Linked DNA regions of Homo sapiens. The protein of the gene in region 1 purifies or fractionates together with the protein of each later gene. This does not show direct contact. Each region holds a gene or a part of one and is shown in the gene's direction. Other genes may lie near its edges.

Region 1 (4,808 bases):
TTAACATGCCTTCATGCTGGGCATCACTGGTAGATTTTATTTAAAAGTGCATTCAGTTTCCCTTGATACACTTACCTTGTGTGTGTTGGGTAGAAAATAACTGTAGCATTCATATAGGAAGTTGAGAATAAGGATAACCTGACTTTCACCCATGTGTTACTCTTCACTGCCATCAAGGTAGCCCTTCCATTGATGGACATGGCTTCTGGAAAGAAGCGCTTCCTTTTCATAAAGATGTTTATTTTGTGACAAAGGCCAAGGGACTTCACAATTTGGCTATCATAACAGGCCCCACAGTAAACCACAATACAGCCAGAGCTTTAATCATGCTAGAATGGCTAGCTCACAGCTGAAGTTAGGATTTGCGTTTACAAAACTAAAATTTTGACGTATCAGAAGGCAAGTGTTATGAGTATTAGTAAATGTAATGATATTTTCCACAACTTAGAAGTTACAGTAAATGGCTTCCAGCATGGGACCACTTCTGTACCCATTTTTTAACACTAAACAAAGGCAATATGTTTTTCTTCTTTTAAACGTTGAAACCAGAATATATTTTAACATTACTTAAAATTTGAAATTTTTTATTTTTTCCAACACTAATCAGGAATGATTTCTGTTTTCTTTCCCTTAGGTAAAGAGGAGTATTTTTGCTTCACCTGAGAGTGTGACTGGTAAAGTTGGAGTAGGAACCTGTGGAATTGCTGATAAACCTATGACACAATATCAAGATACCTCTAAATACAATGTCAGGCATTTGATGCCTCAATAATCAGAAAAACTGTTGGATTTCATCTCTGCAGGGCTTTACATTTACCTTTTTATCCTTATATTTTTCTAAAGGTAAATTATTTGTTAGATGAGTAAGCAAGATACCATTGTCGTCATTGGTTGGCTTCAGTAGAATGAAACGTGAAGAAATTGCATTTGATAACTGCTATTCATTTAACTTTTCTCATTATCAGTACCACGGTTCCCTCAAAGTTTGTTGAATAAAGCAACTTTTGTAGATGCTGTTTCATACAGCACTTAGATGAATTATTGATCTTCCTAATATCAGGCGCCTACTTAACCTATGGTGTGTACTTTTTGTAAGTTGTAACTTGAAATTTTCAGATGCTTTGAACTTGACACATACTCTAGCAATTCATTGGAACACCAAGGCAAAAACACCAACCTGCTAAAAGAGATCTTTTCATTTTTCTTATTTTCAGCTTTAAAACTTAGCTGTCGTTCAGTTAAGCTTAAAGATAGGTTAATTTGTAAATGGCAAAGTTTGTTTTGAGGTTTTTCCTCAATAACTTGTTTCCCAGGCCTATTAGGCCATCTCTAAAATTGATCTAGCTGTTTTATTTTTATGTACTCTTAGTTTTATGTAAGAAACCTTAGGATGAGCTCCCTTTTCTAAGGTGTTTTTGTTTTTTGTATGTTTGCTTTTTTCCTGTTTTTTGTTTTTTCCATTTACGGCAGTGGTACCATGTTTTGGATGTGTGATGTTTATATGGGAGAACAAAAAGCTGATGTATAGCCCTGTATACAGTGTAGATACTATTTTTGTAAAAACACAAGGCTAAATTAATGAACAAGAATACTGAATATTTCATCATTAAAAATTTCTTGTATTTCTTGTGCATTAATCTGACGATAATTTCCCTGTATATTATGTTCATTTAGCTGTTTGTAATTTTTGTTAATTAGATCAGGTTGTCTGCATTTGTTGGTGTAAGTGAACATCATCACAGTTATCCTGAGTTGAGTTTAAGCCAAATACATGCATAGAAAAGGGTCTTCCTATTAATGGAAGAAGGTAATTTTTAGGATGTGTATTATTTCAGTTTTGTATGTTTAACTTTTATTAAATAAAGTGTTTTTAAAATCTCCAGGGTGTGTTAACAAAAGGGTAAAGTCTTTAGCTGTCAGCACTTAAAGCAATTAAACCTCCAAGTACTTGCACACGGCATTCATGCAAGAGAATACTGAGTGTGTGAGAGGTTTCAGTAAATGCTTAAGTATTCCTTCCATTAGAAGAAATTGGATCTTAAAGGGCAAACCAGGCCTGTGTTTATAGGATGTCCTCATTTTAATGGGTGTTTGTAGATTTTTGGTGGAAGGGGAAAATAAGTTTTTATTTCATGAATTTTAATTTTTTTTATAAATTGAAACTTAGGACAGTGGTAGGTAGAATTCTTCATCTCTCCCTTCCACACCCACCCCTCTCAACCCAGGAGGGTCACTTTTTCTTCATATAATTCGTGGCCACAGGGTAGGACACAAAGGACAGAAAGGCACAAACTGCAGTAGAAAAAGGGTTTGTTGAAGCCTGTAAACTTCTAAATAAAATATACTTTGTTATTGTAACATCTTAAGAGCTTATCAATAATCAAGAGTAGCCTTGATGGATTGCAAGAGAATCCTTTGAATTAAAAAGCACTGGGAAGAAATTTGGTGTCATTGTGTGACCCCAGAAAATGGTTGTTGAGATTACCTTGGTGGTATTAGAATAGTAATTCACTTGATGTTTGTGTAGGCAGGACTGTTAACAGTCTTGTCCCTCTTTTGACCCTGGGGGGCCTTAGTTTTCCCAGAGGACTTTGCAGTAGGAGAGAGAAAAAGAATAAAAGTGACCTTAAAAAAAAATGTTTTGAAAATAGACCTTTAGAATGAAATCAGCAACCTTTGTGTCAAAGATCTAGATGTGGCCCTTTGGAAAATCCTAGTGTCAGGATGATGTTTGTGTCTCTGAACTAAGAGGCAGGACTCCTGGGGAGACTACCTGTCACAGTGTGATACTGAATTTGAGAAGATGCTCAATGAGAAGCATGATACCCACAGTATTTTACAGTTGAAGGTGGTTAAGCTCTCTATATTCTGAAACAAAATATAAACCTTGACCTTAAAAAGCTTTGTTAGAAAATTTAATGTAGAGTTTTCCCCATTAAGAAAGGAGACTTGAAGCTTTGAAACTGTGACAGACTGAAATGTTAAATATTGAGTTATGGGCCCCTAAGTAGAAATGGTTGCATGTAACTTACCAAAGCTTGACGTTTGACTGTTGTTACCATTTCAAGGAAAGAACAGTCCTAACCTCCCGAAAATAAAATGTTGAGTTTTAGTGGTAATCACAGGTAACAAGTGCTATTTTAATTAACATGTAGGGAGGCCACAGAGCATACTGGAAAACAGCAAGGACTCTAGAGCCAGACTAGTGTTTGTTTATTACCATTTATTACCTGTGTATTCCCATTTATTACCTGTGTATTCCTCTGATTCATTTTTCTCAGCTGTAGAATGGAAAAATCTGTTTCAGTTTTAAGGATTGAATTCAAATGTGTAAATAGCTTAAGAGTATCCGGCATAAGCACTATAGAAGCGTCTGCTATTACTCTGCAGAGTGGCAGTGGTGAATTATCTGATATTTTTTCCTTAACTTGAATAGCAATCCACATTACAATGGATAACAATACCCATTGTTTATGATTTGAGGCATCCAATTATAACTGTATTATTGAAGTGTTATCAAATTACCAAGGCTGTAGGGTATATTTAGTATTCCTAGTTAAAGGTTTGAACTAATTTGTATACTAGGGCATGTTTCTTAATGGGAAGGGGGTGAAGGTTATAATAAAAGTCACCCCTAATGCTTGTTTAAAATTAAAGAGGAATTTGTGGGCCTGGGACCAACCTTAGACTTATCCAGGCCAAGGTATGTTGTTTGACGAACACCGCAGGTGATCCTGATGTGCATCCCCGTCTGAGAACTGTTAACTATAAAAGTTTGACTTTGGAAATGAAGAAAAATTACCTTTTAGCCTAATCATGAAGACTAGGCGTCAAACCAAAACAAGATGCATCAGTTACTGTAGCAACACATTTTTTTTAAAAAATTGCTTGTTGTCACAATGAAGGGTGTGTGTCTGTTTCCAGTATGCAATTCTAATGCCAAATGTCTGCCTTAAAAATAGCAAAGGAGACCATCAGGTTAACATAAAGGAAAACTGTAGTTGTGTGACTCATGTGTCTGTAGATTGTAATTTTATAATTACAATTTTTATAAGATAAAAAACTACCAGTTGTAAATTCAACCAAAAAAAATTTAAAGCTTTGATTTAGCTTTTTGCTTTAACTTGGGTAGTAACTGAAATATAAAGGAAGAAAATCTATTAAAACCAATGAGGTTTTATATTTTTTTAAATCTTGATTCAATAAATATCAGCTGAATTAAGTATCTGTATGGTACTACGAAGCAATCAATTAGTATAAATGGCAATTTACAAGTTCAACAGTAAATGTAAACATTCTTTGTATCTAGGATTTTTGAGTTGCAAGTTAAACTGAATTTTTACTGCAGTAGAGAGGAGGAGCATAGCAGGCAAAATAACAGGTAATACTGTATTTTAAACAAACAGAAAAACCCAAGTAATTGGCGCCCTTTATCCAATCATCTTTTAAAAGGCCTATGTATGTGTATAGTTATGTTCTTAAGAAACATCTTAAGAGGTTCAGAAATCAATTTTATAGATGGAACATTTTAATAATTCGTTTTGGCCTAGCCAAAAGAGTAAAATAAAACAAAATAGTGTTAGATTTCTGTGAGGTGTTTTAATTGCCTTTTCTGCCTTTTAACTTATGTATATAAAGGTGGTTCTTTTGTGGCCTTGATTGGGGTAAAGCAGAACTGAGAATAATAGGGGTTTGTAGTAGTTGACAGCTGAACTAGCTAAAAATACGAAGTTTTGGATATTTAATTAATCTTTCAGTTCCCAGGCAACAAAAACTGGAAACTTAGTTCCACCACACACCTTACCAGT
Region 2 (7,598 bases), on another chromosome or scaffold:
ACGGAGTCTCGCTTTGTTGCCCAGGCTGGAGTGCAGTGGTGTGATCTCAGCTCACTGCAACCTCTGCCTCCTGGGTTCAAGCATTTCTCCTGCCTCAGCCTCCTGAGTAGCTGGGACTACAGGTGCACGCTGCCATGCCCAGCTAATTTCTTTTGTATTTTAGTAGAGAAGGGGTTTCACCATGTTGCCCACGCTGGTCTCAAATTCCTGAGCTCAGGCAATCCACCTGCCTTGGCCTCCCAAAGTGCTAGGATTACAGGCGTGAGCCACTGCGCCTGGCTGCCACTGCTAATTATTATTGTCAAAGGAATCTGTATATAATCAATAAGTGAGTCAGGTAATTTTTGTGTGTGTGAGAAAGGGGGAGCAGCTGCTGTTGCTACTAAAACCTTATTCATAACACTTACGTTGTGGGGTGGGTGTGGGGCAGGCAGTCAAGTGCAGCAGAAGGAATTTTCCATTCCACACTGACCACACCTCCGTGAAGGCTGTTTCCTAATTATTCCTAGAAGCAGCTAGGATCTGTCTTAGCAGAAGACATTAAGTCTGATTTTTAGTTGTCTCTCCTTTTATCTTCTTTCTTCAGAGCCTAGCACAAGCTAGAAACTCAATAAATGCCAAAGAAGCAAATGGAGTGTTCCTTTTACCAGCCTATATCCTGAAACCCAGAGAGCAGGGAAAAACTGTTTAAAAACTGTCTAGAATGAAAATGCCACCAAGTAGGAGCAGTCCATTGGCACAATACAGGAGGCTGTAGCTTTGGGGCAATCATTTTTTAAGGTCTCTATCTTTCAGCATGCACAGGTTCCACAGCTGTTTGTATTGTTAAATACTTTCTCCACTCCACTTTTTTCCTCCTTAAAGAAATCAAAACATTTTTGGTGGGGAGGTCTAAAAATTATTGTGAGCCCTAGGCACTGAGTCTCCTGTACCTTACTAACAAGTCAGTTCTGGCTGGTGCCTGGGGGAACTGGTTGGTAATGTTTTGATCATCACCCCAGGTAAGTATTACACTGTACATCAGAAGTAGAAAACTGAAATGCCTACAAGCAGGCTGGGTATGGGGAATTTGTCCACCGTGTATGATGAGTTGGTGGCTAAACTGGTGTTCATAGCCCCCTTCCCTAGAAGTCGCTGCAGGCCACCTCACCTGGATTGTCCCCCAGTGTTGCCAGACTTCCCCATTTTTCAAGAAAGGCTAGAAACCCTGAGTTTTATGTAAAATCTCTCTGTTTTAAAATGCTAGCTCAAATTTCAAAGAAAAAATCTCCCTGAATGAACCAAACAAAACATCTCAGTATTGTATATGGCACTACTTTGTAATTTCTCTTGAACGTATCTGCTGCAGGGAGAAGCCTTAAAAACAAATGGCAGGTGTGGGCACCAGAAAATCAACACATCGGGAAGAGAAAAATGGCATGGTTTTACTGTAATTGTAAAAAGGTAATACTAGTTGCAGTAAATTGCATGATTCTTACTGTTTATGTGTAGTCCCTTAGCACTAATCTAATTATTCAGATTCCATAAAATTCCATTTGGATTATTTTCATGCTATTTCACTTTCCTGAATTTGTAATTTGAGTAATAGGGCCAGAATTTCATGACGTAATAGGGCCAGAATTTCACGTATCAAGAATTCTTACTCATAATTGTGATGTTCAATTTTTTTTTTTTTTTCCTGAGATAGGGTCACTCTGTTGCCCAGACTGGAGTGCAATGGCAAGATTCCCAGTGCTCTGGTGGTCCTCCCACTTCAGCCTCCTATCTGGGACTACAGATGCATGCCACCACATCTGGCTGATTTTTAAATATTTTTTTGTAGAAATAAGGTTTTGCCATGTTGCCCAGGCTGGTCTCGAACTCATGGGTTCAAGCCATCTGCCTGCCTTGATCTGCCCGCCTTGGCCTCCCAAAGTGCTAGGAGTACAAGCCTGAGCCACTGTGCCTGGCAATGATTTTGAATTTTTAAAAGCGTACTTAACCCTTAATAAAGGCCCGTATTATTTCTAGTCACATCATATTTGTCTGACTTGCTTTGGGGCTTACAATATAAAAAAGAAGAGAGGAAAGAAGTCTGCATTCTTTTGTTTTTGACTCTTCAGGAGTATTTAGTAAAAATTATTTTTAAAATAAGTAGGACTTTGGGGATTTGACTGAAAAGCTACACATATTCACTTTCTAGTGACAAAATCAGCCTGTGGCATTGTCAGAACACCACAAGGCATACCCAGTCCCACTTCTCCTCTTCATCTCAGCTGATGATTTCACTTTCTAATCCTATAAACAGTTAAGATCTAGGCTGGGCGCGGTGGCTCACGCCTGTAATCCCAGCACTTTGGGAGGCCGAGGTGGGTGGATCACGAGGTCAGGAGATGGAGACCATCCTGATTAACATGGTGAAACCCCGTCTCTACTGAAAATACAAAAAATTACCCGAGCGTGGTGGCGGGCGCCTATAGTCCCAGCTACTCGGGAGGCTGTGGCAGGAGAATGGCATGAACCCAGGAGGCGGAGCTTGCAGTGAGCCGAGATCACGCCACTGCACTCCAGCCTAGGCGACAGAGCGAGACGTCTCAAAACAAACAAAACAAAACAAAACCCTGTTAAGATCTAGTGTGCTGAGCTCTTCAAAGTGGTAAAGTATAGGTTCCTTGGAAACAGAAGGGTCTCTGATTTAGGATTGGTGGGGAGGGAGGACTGTAAGCCTTCCTGGAGGAAGGGACATCTTCACCCAGAGTAGAATTGGATTAGACTTCAATGAGAGGGCAGGGCAAGGTTGAGGGAAGAGGCCCAGAACTGAAAAAGTATGACAGAATCCAGCAGTAGAAGTAAATTGAATTGGGTTGGAGGGTGCAAGTCATTCTAATTTCATGTGTAGCACTTGTCACTTTCAGATCATTTCTTGTTTACTGTCTGTTCTTCTACCCTCATACCCTCACAGAGAATAGGAGGCCTGGCCTGCTGATTCCTTAGTGGCTGGCATATATGTCTGTTAATCTTTCTTGAGAGCCAGCCTTGTGTCAGATCCTGTTCTAAGTGCTTCCCTCGCTCCCCACCCCCGCCATTCAACAAAATTCTACTTCTTCAGAGCTGGTTCAAATGCTTTCTTCTCTATGACCACCCCCCCCCCTGCCCCGCCCCGTCTCTTTTCCTCACTCCTACTCTCAGAATTAATTACTTCTTTCAGAGGTCCCTCAGCTATTGATCCTTCCTTGCAGCATCAATTTAATTATGCATAGTGTCAGTTTGCGGTTTCCTTGTCTCCTCCATTTCTCATTAAGTTTTAAATCATATGAAGACAGTGCATGTTTGTCTGTCTCTGTAAGCCCTACAACACTTTGGGCAGGCTTTTACACACAAAACGGGGCTCAAAAATATTTTGAATAAATGATTTAGGGAGAGGTCCACAAACGCCCTCCACTCCCACCCTAGTCCTCAGAGCAATACTTTAAAATAAAAATCTGACCATTTCAACCTTGTTAAAGGCCGATCTTCATTCTGAGAACAGAATTCTAACTCCTAAGCACGATGGTGACCTCAGGGCGCTGTGTGAACCTGCACCCGCACCCCTGTCCAACCACGTCCCTCCCCACACCTGGTCTAATAAAACGACTGCTTTAGGTGACCTGCACGATCGGCTGTACTGATTCATGCCACAGGCTTTTACCTCAATTACTCCCTCTGTCTGGAATGTCCTTTCTTTCCTTGCCTGGCCTGATTCGGGCATGGCCTTCTCAAGCAAGCTTTCCGTCTTTGAATCTAGGCCCTGATTAAGAACTTTTTAAAAAAGTACTAAGTTCAGAAAAGTTTAATATGGTGTTCCCCCATTTATGTGATTAAAAATGAAAACAATACTAAAGTGTAAAATGTAATCTTTAAAATGTCACACAACTTTACATGCATGCTAGATTTAGAATACCATCTGTATTTACGATTTTCTCTTATTGACTGTCTCCACGCGCACCCACTCTGCAGACGCCCTAAAGAGTGTCTATCGGATCACCCTCAAGTTGGGTCAAACGGCTCCTCTTCTCGGCTTTTCGGGAGCAACCCTATCTCAACATTCACCATCTTAAGATGAGCAGACTGCAAGTTTGCCTCTCCCACCAGTATGGGAGCTGCCGAAGCGGCAAGAACAGCGTTTCCGTCCATCGAGCGCCAGGTCACCAGTCAGCTCCAGTCCTATTTTGAGTTGAAGTAAAAGCTCCTCCCTAGATGGCCAGTGCACGTCTTTAAAAAGCGACTCCTTTCCCACAAAGGAAATACGACTGGTTCGCATCTATCAAGGGTTGGCGTTGGGATAAGAGGGTGAAGTATCAGCTGGCCCTGATTCTCTGAATTCCCGGACCCAATAACGCGACCAAGCACCGTGACTCCCAGGAAAACTAGCGGAGTGAGCGCGGCTGAGGAAATTACTGACACCGGAAGTCACGTGAGCGGCTGCCCCTAAGGTCGCTATCTCGACAGTCGACTATTCAGCCTTGCAGGCGCCTCTGGCGGGCTTCACTGAGATCCGCTCTTTCGGTGCTCGACTCGCCCGTGCTGCTGCCGCCGCCGAAGGAGGGGCAAAGCTCAAGATGGCGGACAAAACGCCAGGCGGATCTCAGAAGGCCAGTTCAAAGGTAATTTCTGACAAAATTTCGTAAGTCAGCGGATCTACCACTGTCGTTTGGGGCCCACAGACGCTTCTGGCCTGTGAGAGGCGATTGGGATTGGGGTCTGCATTCTAGTCGCGACGGTAGGCCCGGGCGCCGCCGCACCGTTGTGCGCAGGTTGAGAGGCCTGGTATCTCCCCATAGTCCCAGCCGGGATTCAGCTCGAGACTGGCGTGCCCAGTGGGTGGAGGCGTGAGTGCTTCGGCCCGCGCTTGGCATTGGAGTGAAATCAGGAATTCAGATTGAGGTCTGAAGCAGTGAAAACGCTCTCCTGTATCTCAGCTTCCTGCGCCCTGAGGCCGCCAGACAGCGCCTGGGAGAGAGGCGGGAATCGCTTCCCGGTGCTTAAATGTCTGCTGCTTTTTTCTCGGTTTTGGATCTCACTCACTTCCGGCCTCCCTCAGTTTCCCTCCAAGGAATGAATAACCTCTAGGGTCGCCAGCTGTGAGGGGAGGACCACTAGGGCAAAGACACGGAGTGGGAAATGCAGAGGCGGGAGCAGCTCTCCTTTGCAGTGCTGCATAGCCAAGGTTAATGTACAGTCTACACGTGGTCTTTACCTTAACGGGAAGTAAAAAGCACTTTTGAGGGTAGAGGACTCGTGGTCTCTTTCTTTATGTTGAAGAAACAGTGAAAAGAGAAGCTCCGTAGACTTGTAAGCTACATACGATTAGTAAATTGCATTTGTGTTTACAGGGAACCCTGGGCACGTATTGTGAAACCAGTGAGCTGTGGTAGTAGTTAAGCATTAGTACGGTTGGGTTCTTAGTTGCCATCTTGGGCGGGACATTTAATCGTTTTTTGGTTTGGGTTTCTGGTCTCGAATATATTAAAAGTAATTGGTACTGCCACGAGGTAGTTAAACTTTCCGATGCTGATGCAAGAAGCTGTGTAACACTTTCAGGTGCTAGGGACTGTTAAATCTTAAAGAGTGTGTGACTGTAAATCGGCTATTAGAAAGTTAAATTTACGGTAGGAGAGAAGCTTGCGTTTACAGTTCTGAGAAACATCATAACTCGTTTTCTACTTGCTTTCTCTAATCCGACTGTTTATGCCATTTGGTGAACGATGTACACCAAAATAATTAATTCATAATTAGTAATGGTCTTAACAGACATCGTTTAGTTACATAGAAACTTTGGTGAGGGGCCAGTTTCGGCTTCTTTACAAGGTATTGTGTCAGTTTTTTTTCCCCCTCCTCAGTACATTTTCTCGTCTCCCTCTCTTTGGGGGCGAGCTCTACCAACTCTTCTCAACAGACTCCTGACAAGAACATACCGTTAGGGAGCTATTACTAAAGCTAGCTACGTTCATAACAAGTCGTGCATAAGCCTCACAATTTTTGTTTCTTCTCAAAGTAATATTTTAAGTATTCCCTACTTGAGGTCTTGGATACATTGAAAACATTTCAATGTCTGTGTTCAGGCTTCCTTCTAAAATAGTGCTTCTCATGACTGAATGTATGGCTGTTCTCAATAAATAAATTATTGGATTATCCAGTAATCTTTTCTGTTTATATTGCCTTAGATTATAATCTCTTGATGCTATTAGCAGATTTCTTACTGATGTCTGTGAAAGGAATCAGAATATCTTAACTAATTTGGAGGCTGCATAATGTAGTGGGAAGATTATGAATTTTGTTAACAAGAGATTTGGGTTCAAATCCTGACTTGGTAATTAATTATATTTGCGATAATAAGGCAGATTGCTTAAACTCTGGAGCCTCAATTCCCTCATTTGTAATGTAGATATAATTCTTTTTTTACATGGTTGATATAAGGATCAAATGAGATAATGTCTATGAAGTACATAATAAATCTTAATTTCTTTCCCCTCTTTTTGTTTTTAGAGGAAATCAAAAGTTCTTAGCTTTCAAAATGTCAGGATAAATTTTAATCCTGTGATTTGGAATCTAAGTCATCAGCTGTCATAATGACTGCCCAGATAGCTGCTTTTTATTTATTTTATTTCTTTTTTTTTTTTTTTTTTTTTTTTGTGAAAGAGTTTCGCTCTGTCGCCCAGGCTGGAGTGCTGGAGTGCAGTGGCACAATCTCGGCTCATTGCAACCTCCGCCTCCCGGGTTCAAGTGATTCTCCTGCCTCAGCCTCCCTAGTAGCTGGGACTACAGGCGCCCGCCAGTACGCCCGGCTAATTTTTTGTATTTTAGTAGAGACGGGGTTTCACCATGTTGGCCAGGATGGTCTCGATCTCTTGACCTCGTGATCCACCCGCCTCAGCCTCCCAAAGTGATGGGATTACAGGCGTGAGCCACCGTGCCCCGCCCTGCTTCCCTGCTTTTTATTTCTAACACATAATTTATTAGAGAAATTGTAAGATCATTTTGGCTAATACTACAGTATTTAGAATTTCTAGCCTTTGATATCTGGTTTGATTTCCTTTCCTCTGGAAAGAACAGATGAGTGGCTTATATTTTACAATACAGATGGAGTGAACAGATACTTCTGTTTCATGATTCGTCGTTTTCTTTGGTAGTTACATTCCCGTTAATATGGATAGGGATGCTTATTATATTTCTAGACATTGGGAAAATGTTAATTTTAAATGTACAATATGGCAAAATTATTAACATTTCTTAATTATAAAAAGATTAAATTAGATAACCTCTACAGGTCTTCTAGTTGGGGTGTTTTTTTTTTTTTTTTTTTTTTTTTTTTGAGAGGGAGTCTTGCCTTGTCGCCCAGGCTGGAGTGCAGTGGTGCAATCTCAGCTCACTGCAACCTCTGCCTCCTGGGTTCAAGCAATTCTTCTGCCTCAGCCTCCCGAGTAGCTGGGACTACAGGCGCCTGGCCAATTTTTGTATTTTTAGTAGAGATGGGGTTTCATCTGTTGGCCTCTTGACCTTGTGACCCCCCCCCCCCGCCTCGGCCTCCCAAAGTGCGGGGATTATAGGCGTGAGCCACCGTGCCTGGCTTCTAGTTTTAA
Region 3 (7,117 bases), on another chromosome or scaffold:
CTGCAACCTCCACCTCCTGGTTCCAAGCGATTCTCCTGCCTCAGCCTCCCGAGTAGCTGGGACTACAAGCATGTGCCACCATGCCCAGTTAATTTTGTGTATTTAGTGAGACAGGGTTTCACCATGTTAGCCAGGCTGATCTCGAACTCCCGACCTCAGGTGATCCACCCACCTTGGCCTCCCAAAGTGCTGGGATTACAGGCGTGAGCCACCGCACCCGGCCCACATTTAAGTCTTTAATCCATCTTGAATTAATTTTTGTATAGGGTGTAAGGAAGGAATCCAGTTTCAGCTTTCTACATATGTCTAGCCAGTTTTCCCAGCACCATTTATTAAATAGGGAATCCTTTCCCCATTTCTTGTTTTTGTCAGGTTTGTCAAAGATCAGATGGTTGTAGATGTGTCATACTATTTCCAAGGACTCCGTTCTGTTCCATTGGTCTATATCTCTGTTTTGATACCAGTACCATGCTGTTTTGGTTACTGTAGCCTTGTAGTATAGTTTGAAGTCAGATAGCGTGATGCCTCCAGCTTTGTTCTTTTGGCTTAGGATTGTCTTGGCAAGGCAGGCTCTTTTTTGGTTCCATGTGAACTTTCAAGTAGTTTTTTCCAATTCTGTGAAGAAATTGGTAAGCTTGTGAAGTCATTGGTAGCTTGATGGGGATGGCATTGAGTCTATAAATTACCTTGGGCAGTATGGCCATTTTCACAATATTGATTCTTCCTATCCATGAGCATGGAATGTTCTTCCATTTCTTTGTGTCCTCTTTCATTTCGTTGAGCAGTGGTTTGTAGTTCTCCTTGAAGAGGTCCTTCACATCCCTTGTAAGCTGGATTCCTAGGTATTTTATTCTCTTTGAAGGAATTGTGAAGGGGAGTTCACTCATGATTTGGCTCTCCGTTTATCTGTTATTGGTGTATAAGAATGCTTGTGATTTTTGCACATGATTTTGTATCCTGAGACTTTGCTGAAGTTGCTTATCAGCTTAAGGAGATTTTGGGCTGAGACAATGGAGTTTTCTAAATGTACAATCATGTCATCTGCAAACAGGGACAATTTGACTTCCTTTTTTCCTAATTGAATACCCTTTATTTCTTTCTCCTGCCTGATTGCCCTGGCCGGAACTTCCAACACTATGTTGAATTGGAGTGGTGAGAAAGGGCATCCCTGTCTTGTGCCAGTTTTCAAAGGGAATGCTTCCAGTTTTTGCCCATTCAGTATGATATTGGCTGTGGGTTTGTCATAAATGGCTCTTATTATTTTGAGAAACATCCTATTAATACCTAGTTTATTGAGAGTTTTTAGCATGAAGGGCTGTTGAATTTTGTCAAAGGCCTTTTCTGCATCTATTGAGATAATCATGTGGTTTTTGTCTTTGGTTCTGTTTATATGATGGATTACGTTTATTGATTTGCGTATGTTGAACCAGCCTTGCATCACAGGGATGAAGCCAACTTGATCATGGTGGATAAGTTTTTGATGTGCTGCTGGATTCAGTTTGCCAGTATTTTATTGAGGATTTTTGGATCGATGTTCATCAGGGATATTGTCTAAAATTCTCTTTTTTTTGTTGTGGTCTCTGCCAGGCTTTGGTATCAGGATGATGTTGGCCTCATAAAATGAGTTAGGGAGGATTCCCTCTTTTCCTATTGATTAGAATAGTTTCAGAAGGAATGGTACCAGCTCTTTTTGTACCTCTGGTAGAACTCGGCTGTGAATCCGTCTGGTCCTGGACTTTTTTTTGGTTGGTAGGCTATTAATTATTGCCTCAGTTTCAGAACCTGTTATTGGTCTATTCAGGGATTCAACTTCTTCCTGGTTTAGTCTTGGGAGGGTGTATGTGTCCAGGAATTTATCCATTTCTTCTAGATTTTCTAGTTTGTTTGTGTAGAGGTGTTTATAGTATTCTCTGATGGTAGTTTGTATTTCTGTGGGATCGGTGTTGATATCTCCTTTTTCGTTTTTTATTGCGTCTGTTTGATTCTTCTCTCTTCTTTATTAGTCTTGCTAGCGGTCTTATCAATTTTGTTGATCTTTTCAAAAAACCAGCTCCTGGATTCATTGATTTTTTTTGAAGGGTTTTTTTGTGTGTCTGTCTCCTTCACTTCTCCTCTGATCTTAATTATTTCTTGCCTTCTGCTAGCTTTTGAATGTGTTTGCTCTTGCTTCTCTAGTTCTTTTAATTGTGATGTTAGGGTGTCAGTTTTAGATCTTTCCTGCTTTCTTTTGTGGACATTTAGTGCTATAAATTTCCCTTTACACGCTGCTTTAAATGCGTCCCAGAGATTCTGGTATGTTGTGTCTTTGTGCTCATTGGTTTCCAAGAACACTTTATTTCTGCCTTCATTTCGTTATTTATCCAGTAGTCATTCAGGAGCAGGTTGTTCAGTTTCCATGTAGTTGAGCGGTTTTGAGTGAGTTTCTTAATCCTGAGTTCTAGTTTGACTGCACTGTCGTCTGAGAGACAGTTTGTTATAATTTCTGTTCTTTTACATTTGCTGAGGAGTGCTTTACTTCCAACTATGTGGTCAATTTTGGAATAAGTGTGATGTGGTGCTGAGAAGAATGTATATTCTGTTGATTTGGGGTGGAGAGTTCTGTAGATGTCTATTAGGTCCGCTTGGTGCAGAGCTGAGTTCAATTCCTGGATATCCTTGTTAACTTTGTCTCGTTGATCTGTCTAATGTTGACAGTGGGGTGTTAAAGTTTCCCATTATTATTGTGTGGGAGTCTAAGTCTCTTTGTAGGTCTCTGAGGACTTGCTTTATGAATCTGGGTGCTCCTGTATTGTGTGCATATTTTTTTTTTTTTTTTTTGAGAAGGAGTCTCACTCTGTCGCCCAGGCTGGAGTGCAGTGGCGGGATCAGAGCTCACTGCATCCTCAAACTCCTGGGCTCAAGCAGTCCTCCTAACTCAGCCTCCTAAAGAGCTGGGATCACAGGTGCACACCTCCATGCCTAGCCAATTTGTAAATGTTTTGTAGAGATGAGATCCCATTGTGTTGCCCAGGCTGATGTCAAACTCCTGGCCTCAAGTGATTCTCCCACCCCAGCCTCCAAAAGTGATGGGATTACAGGCGTGAGCCACCACACCCAGCCAGGAAATATTTTAGAGTCAGAATAGATGAGACTGTTTTCTGTTGTTCTATAATAGCCTCAGATGAGTAATTAGGCAAGTGATGTAAAACCTTTGACTCTTTTCTTTGGGATCAGGTAGAGCCTGCTGATAAGGAGTTCTGATATGAAGGCAAGATTTTCCTTTATTCTGTAAGAAAGAACCTTATCCTTGGAAGTAAGGGGTCAGCAAAAGTTACAGGAAAACAGGAAATTTCCCTTCTTATTCTGCACTACTTTTTTCTGACTTTTCATTTATGGACCTGCTTTAGGAACAGCGACATCTCACTCATGAAAATGTACAGCGCAAGCAAGCCAGGACAGGAGAAGAGCGAGAAGAAGAGGAAGAAGAGCAGATCAGTGAGAGTGAGAGTGAAGATGAAGAGAACGAGATCATTTACAACCCCAAAAACCTGCCACTTGGCTGGGATGGCAAAGTAAGTCTCAGCACTACCACTTTCTCCCCATTCCCCATTTTGGAAACAGATACAGAGTTTAGTAGGCTAACACTTCTTGGTTTTGTTTTGTTTTTTTCTTTTTTAGCCTATTCCCTACTGGCTGTATAAGCTTCATGGCCTAAATATCAACTACAACTGTGAGATTTGTGGAAACTACACCTACCGAGGGCCCAAAGCCTTCCAGCGACACTTTGCTGTAAGGAATTCAGAGCCATTTTTCCTGGGAATTGAAGTAAAAACATGAGACTTTTAGAGAAAAGAGTAGGAGCAGCCTATGTGGACCACTGGTGTCCAGAGCTGAAGGGAATCAGAGAAGGATGGTTTTAAAATCAAGCCCATGGCATTTGACTTTTGGCACCAATGTTAGTCTTAAATACCTGAGATAGTTTCTGGAGGAATTCTACCGCACCACTCTTTGAACCTTATTTGGTTTTCTCTTGCCTGCTCTTAAACTTCTCTGTTTTTGTCTTTCTGCTAGCATTTTAGACCAATTTCTGACTTCTTGGTTATTTCTCTACCCCATTGCTAATACTCAAGATAAAAAATAGGGCTGACTGATCTCTTTCAGATCTTAAATGGATCTTTGCCTCTTGAGAAAATAAAAAATGAAGGGGCTGATATTTATCAAGCCATTCTTGAGACAGGGTATTGTCCGGATGATACTGCTGTAAGTGGGCTCACCTCTAAGTGGGCTCTACTTAGAGTTCTTAGATTTTGGAAGGAAATTTTACAGAAAGGAAAACATTTATGCTAGACCAAGGATGACAAATTTATATGAACTCCTCTCCCCCTCTCTGAGTCATACATATTACTAATTGATAATGGGTCTTTTTTGCTGAGCCCATGAGTGAGTTCTGAATCCTTCTCAGCACCTCCTACAATGATTGGAGTTGGCATCCAGGATAAAGCCCATGCCATTTACCATCCCTTAGTTAAAACTGCCATCATGTCAGTGTATAATCTCCCTGCTCTCTCCTCACCACATCATTGTGCCTAATAAAAGTCTTCTCCTTTACCTACAAAGATGATGCTGACCTGCCATTAGTAACCCCTATTCATGCAGGTGTTTGGAGTTGCTGGGGCTTTGGTAAGTTCTCCTGCAATATGGGAGATGTAGTGAGAGTTGTGATGTTTTTCTGTGATCTTGACCCAGAGGTTTTATGTATAAGACTACTGGGTCTAGAATCTAGGTTTACAAGCCAACCCAGTGAGGCAAACAATGCAGTGCTGCTTTGAAATACCACCCTTTTGTCAGTCACAGCCAGCTGTTTACAAACATGAATCACAAAAGGAATGCTACCTTTAGGTGGAGTCTTGCAAAGGGCCATGTTAGGATTTATGAGTAGAATGGAGTTAGTGCTCTGTGTTCAGCTATTCCCATTTCACATGATCCTTTTGCTTCTCTCTTCTCCCAGGAATGGCGTCATGCTCATGGCATGAGGTGTTTGGGCATCCCAAACACTGCTCACTTTGCTAATGTGACACAGATTGAAGATGCTGTCTCCTGTAAGTAAGATTTATTTACTGTCTCCTAGGCGAGTACAAATGGCTCTACTCCTTCAATTCAGCATCCTAATACCCTGTGTATCCAGGGTTAAAGGCAGTAGGTTGTGGATATGTAAAATCTAGGACAGTTGTATAATTATTGCATTTCTGTTTTTTGTTTTGTGTTTTTTTGTTTTGTTTTGAGATGGATGGAGTCTCGCTCTGTCGCCAGGCTGGAGTGTAATGGTGCAGTCTTGGCCCACTGCAACCTCTGCCTCCCGGGCGCAAGCGATTCTCCTGCCTCAGCCTACCGAGTAGCTGGGACTACAGGCACGTGCCACCACACCTGGCTAATTTTTTTTTTTTTTTTTTTTTTTTTTTTTTTTTGTGACGGAGTCTCACTCTGTCGCCCAGGTTGGAGTGCAGTGGCATGATCTCGGCTCACTGCAAGTTCCACCTCCTGGGTTCATGCCATTCTCCTGCCTCAGCCTCCCGGTAGCTGGGACTACAGGCGCCCGCCACCACACTTGGCTAATTTTTTGTGTTTTTAGTAGAGACAGGGTTTCACAGTGTTAGCCAGGATGGTCTTGATCTCCTGACCTCATGATCCGCCCGCCTTGGCCTCCCAAAGTGCTGGGATTACAGGCATGAGCCGCCACACCTGGCTAATTTTTTGTATTTTTAGTAGAGACGGGGTTTCACTGTGTGAGCCAGGATGGCCTTGAACTCCCGACCTCAGGTGATCCGCCCACTTCAGCCTCCCAAAGTGCTGGGATTATAGGCGTGAGCCACCATGCCCAGCCTTTGTTTCTGAGACGAGTCTCACTCTGTCACCAGGCTGGAGTGCAGTGGCACGATCTTGGCTCCTGCAACCTCCGTCTCCTGGGCTCAAGCAATTCTCCTGCCTCAGCCTCCCTAGTACCTGGGATTACAGGCATGTGCCACCATGCCCAGCTAATTTTTCTATTTTTAGTAGAGATGGGCTTTCATCATGTTGGCCAGGCTGGTTGAGGTGACGAACTCCTGACCTCAAGTGATCCACCCATGTTGGCCTCCCAAAGTGCTGGGATAACAGGCGTGAGCCACCGCGCCTAATTATTGCATTTTTTTTTTTTTTTTTTTTTTTTTTGAGATGGAGTTTCGCTCATATTGCCCAGGCTGGAGTGCAATGGTGCGATCTCGGCTCACTGCAACCTGTGCCTCCTGGGTTCAAGCGATTCTCCTGCCTCAGCCTCCCGAGTAGCTGGGATTACAAGTATGCGCCACCATGCCTGGCTAATTTTGTACTTTTAGTAGAGACGGGTTTCTCCATGTTGGTCAGGCTGGTCTTGAACTCCTGACCTCAGGTGATCTGCCCACCTCGGCCTCCCAAAGTGCTGCGATTACAGGCGTGATCCACCGTGCCCAGCTAATTATTGCATTTTTAAGAGAAATGAATTAGTCGGCAATACTGATTGTTTCTCCTTTGAGAAGAGCTCTGTGCTGAGTATAAACCAGGGCTTTTAGCCTGGGTCTGTGAACTCCCTTTTATGCAAGATTTTGATTGAATGGTTGTATGGATAGTTTTCTGAATTGATTTTAATGTGTTAAATAATGACTGATATAAAGGAAAATATAGAAGTACCCTCAGTAAGCTTGTGTTAGAGGCTATAGAAACACAGCAGCAAAATACCTCTTGAAGAAAGTGAAGCGGAGTGCATGTCAGGGAATGTGCTGCTGAAGCACATAGAGGACCACCGCCAGGCTTCCTGTTTTCCCAGCAGTAGTAGCTTTCTCTGCCATTAACATTTTCATGGCAGCCTTTTCTTTTCTTCTTTTTTTTTAATTTAATTTAATTAATTAATTTATTTATTTATTTTTTTGAGACAGAGTCTTGCTCTGTCACCCAAGCTGGAGTGCAGTAGCGTGATCTCAGCTCACTGCAACCTCCACCTCCTGGTTCCAAGCGATTCTCCTGCCTCAGCCTCCCGAGTAGCTGGAATTACAAGCGCTCGCCACCACGCCTGGCTAATTTTTTTGTATTTTTAGTAGAGACGGGGTTTTAGCATGTTGGCCAGGCT

What was found.
Region 2: the proteins of SMNDC1 (region 1) and U2SURP purify together in Homo sapiens (affinity purification with mass spectrometry; 2 studies listed by BioGRID and IntAct, with this or other methods). This does not show direct contact.
Region 3: the proteins of SMNDC1 (region 1) and SF3A3 purify together in Homo sapiens (affinity purification with mass spectrometry; 3 studies listed by BioGRID and IntAct, with this or other methods). This does not show direct contact.

The regions. Positions count from the first base shown.
Region 1 is NC_000010.11:110,290,114-110,294,921, reverse strand, and holds the end of SMNDC1 (survival of motor neuron-related-splicing factor 30), read left to right. Parts: intron 1-634; coding exon 635-772; 3' UTR 773-4,192; downstream 4,193-4,808. UniProt on the Homo sapiens protein: Involved in spliceosome assembly.
Region 2 is NC_000003.12:142,997,052-143,004,649, forward strand, and holds the start of U2SURP (U2 snRNP-associated SURP motif-containing protein), read left to right. Parts: upstream 1-4,518; 5' UTR 4,519-4,577; coding exon 4,578-4,622; intron 4,623-7,598.
Region 3 is NC_000001.11:37,966,005-37,973,121, reverse strand, and holds part of SF3A3 (splicing factor 3A subunit 3), read left to right. Parts: intron 1-3,386; coding exon 3,387-3,551; intron 3,552-3,657; coding exon 3,658-3,768; intron 3,769-4,987; coding exon 4,988-5,078; intron 5,079-7,117. UniProt on the Homo sapiens protein: Component of the 17S U2 SnRNP complex of the spliceosome, a large ribonucleoprotein complex that removes introns from transcribed pre-mRNAs.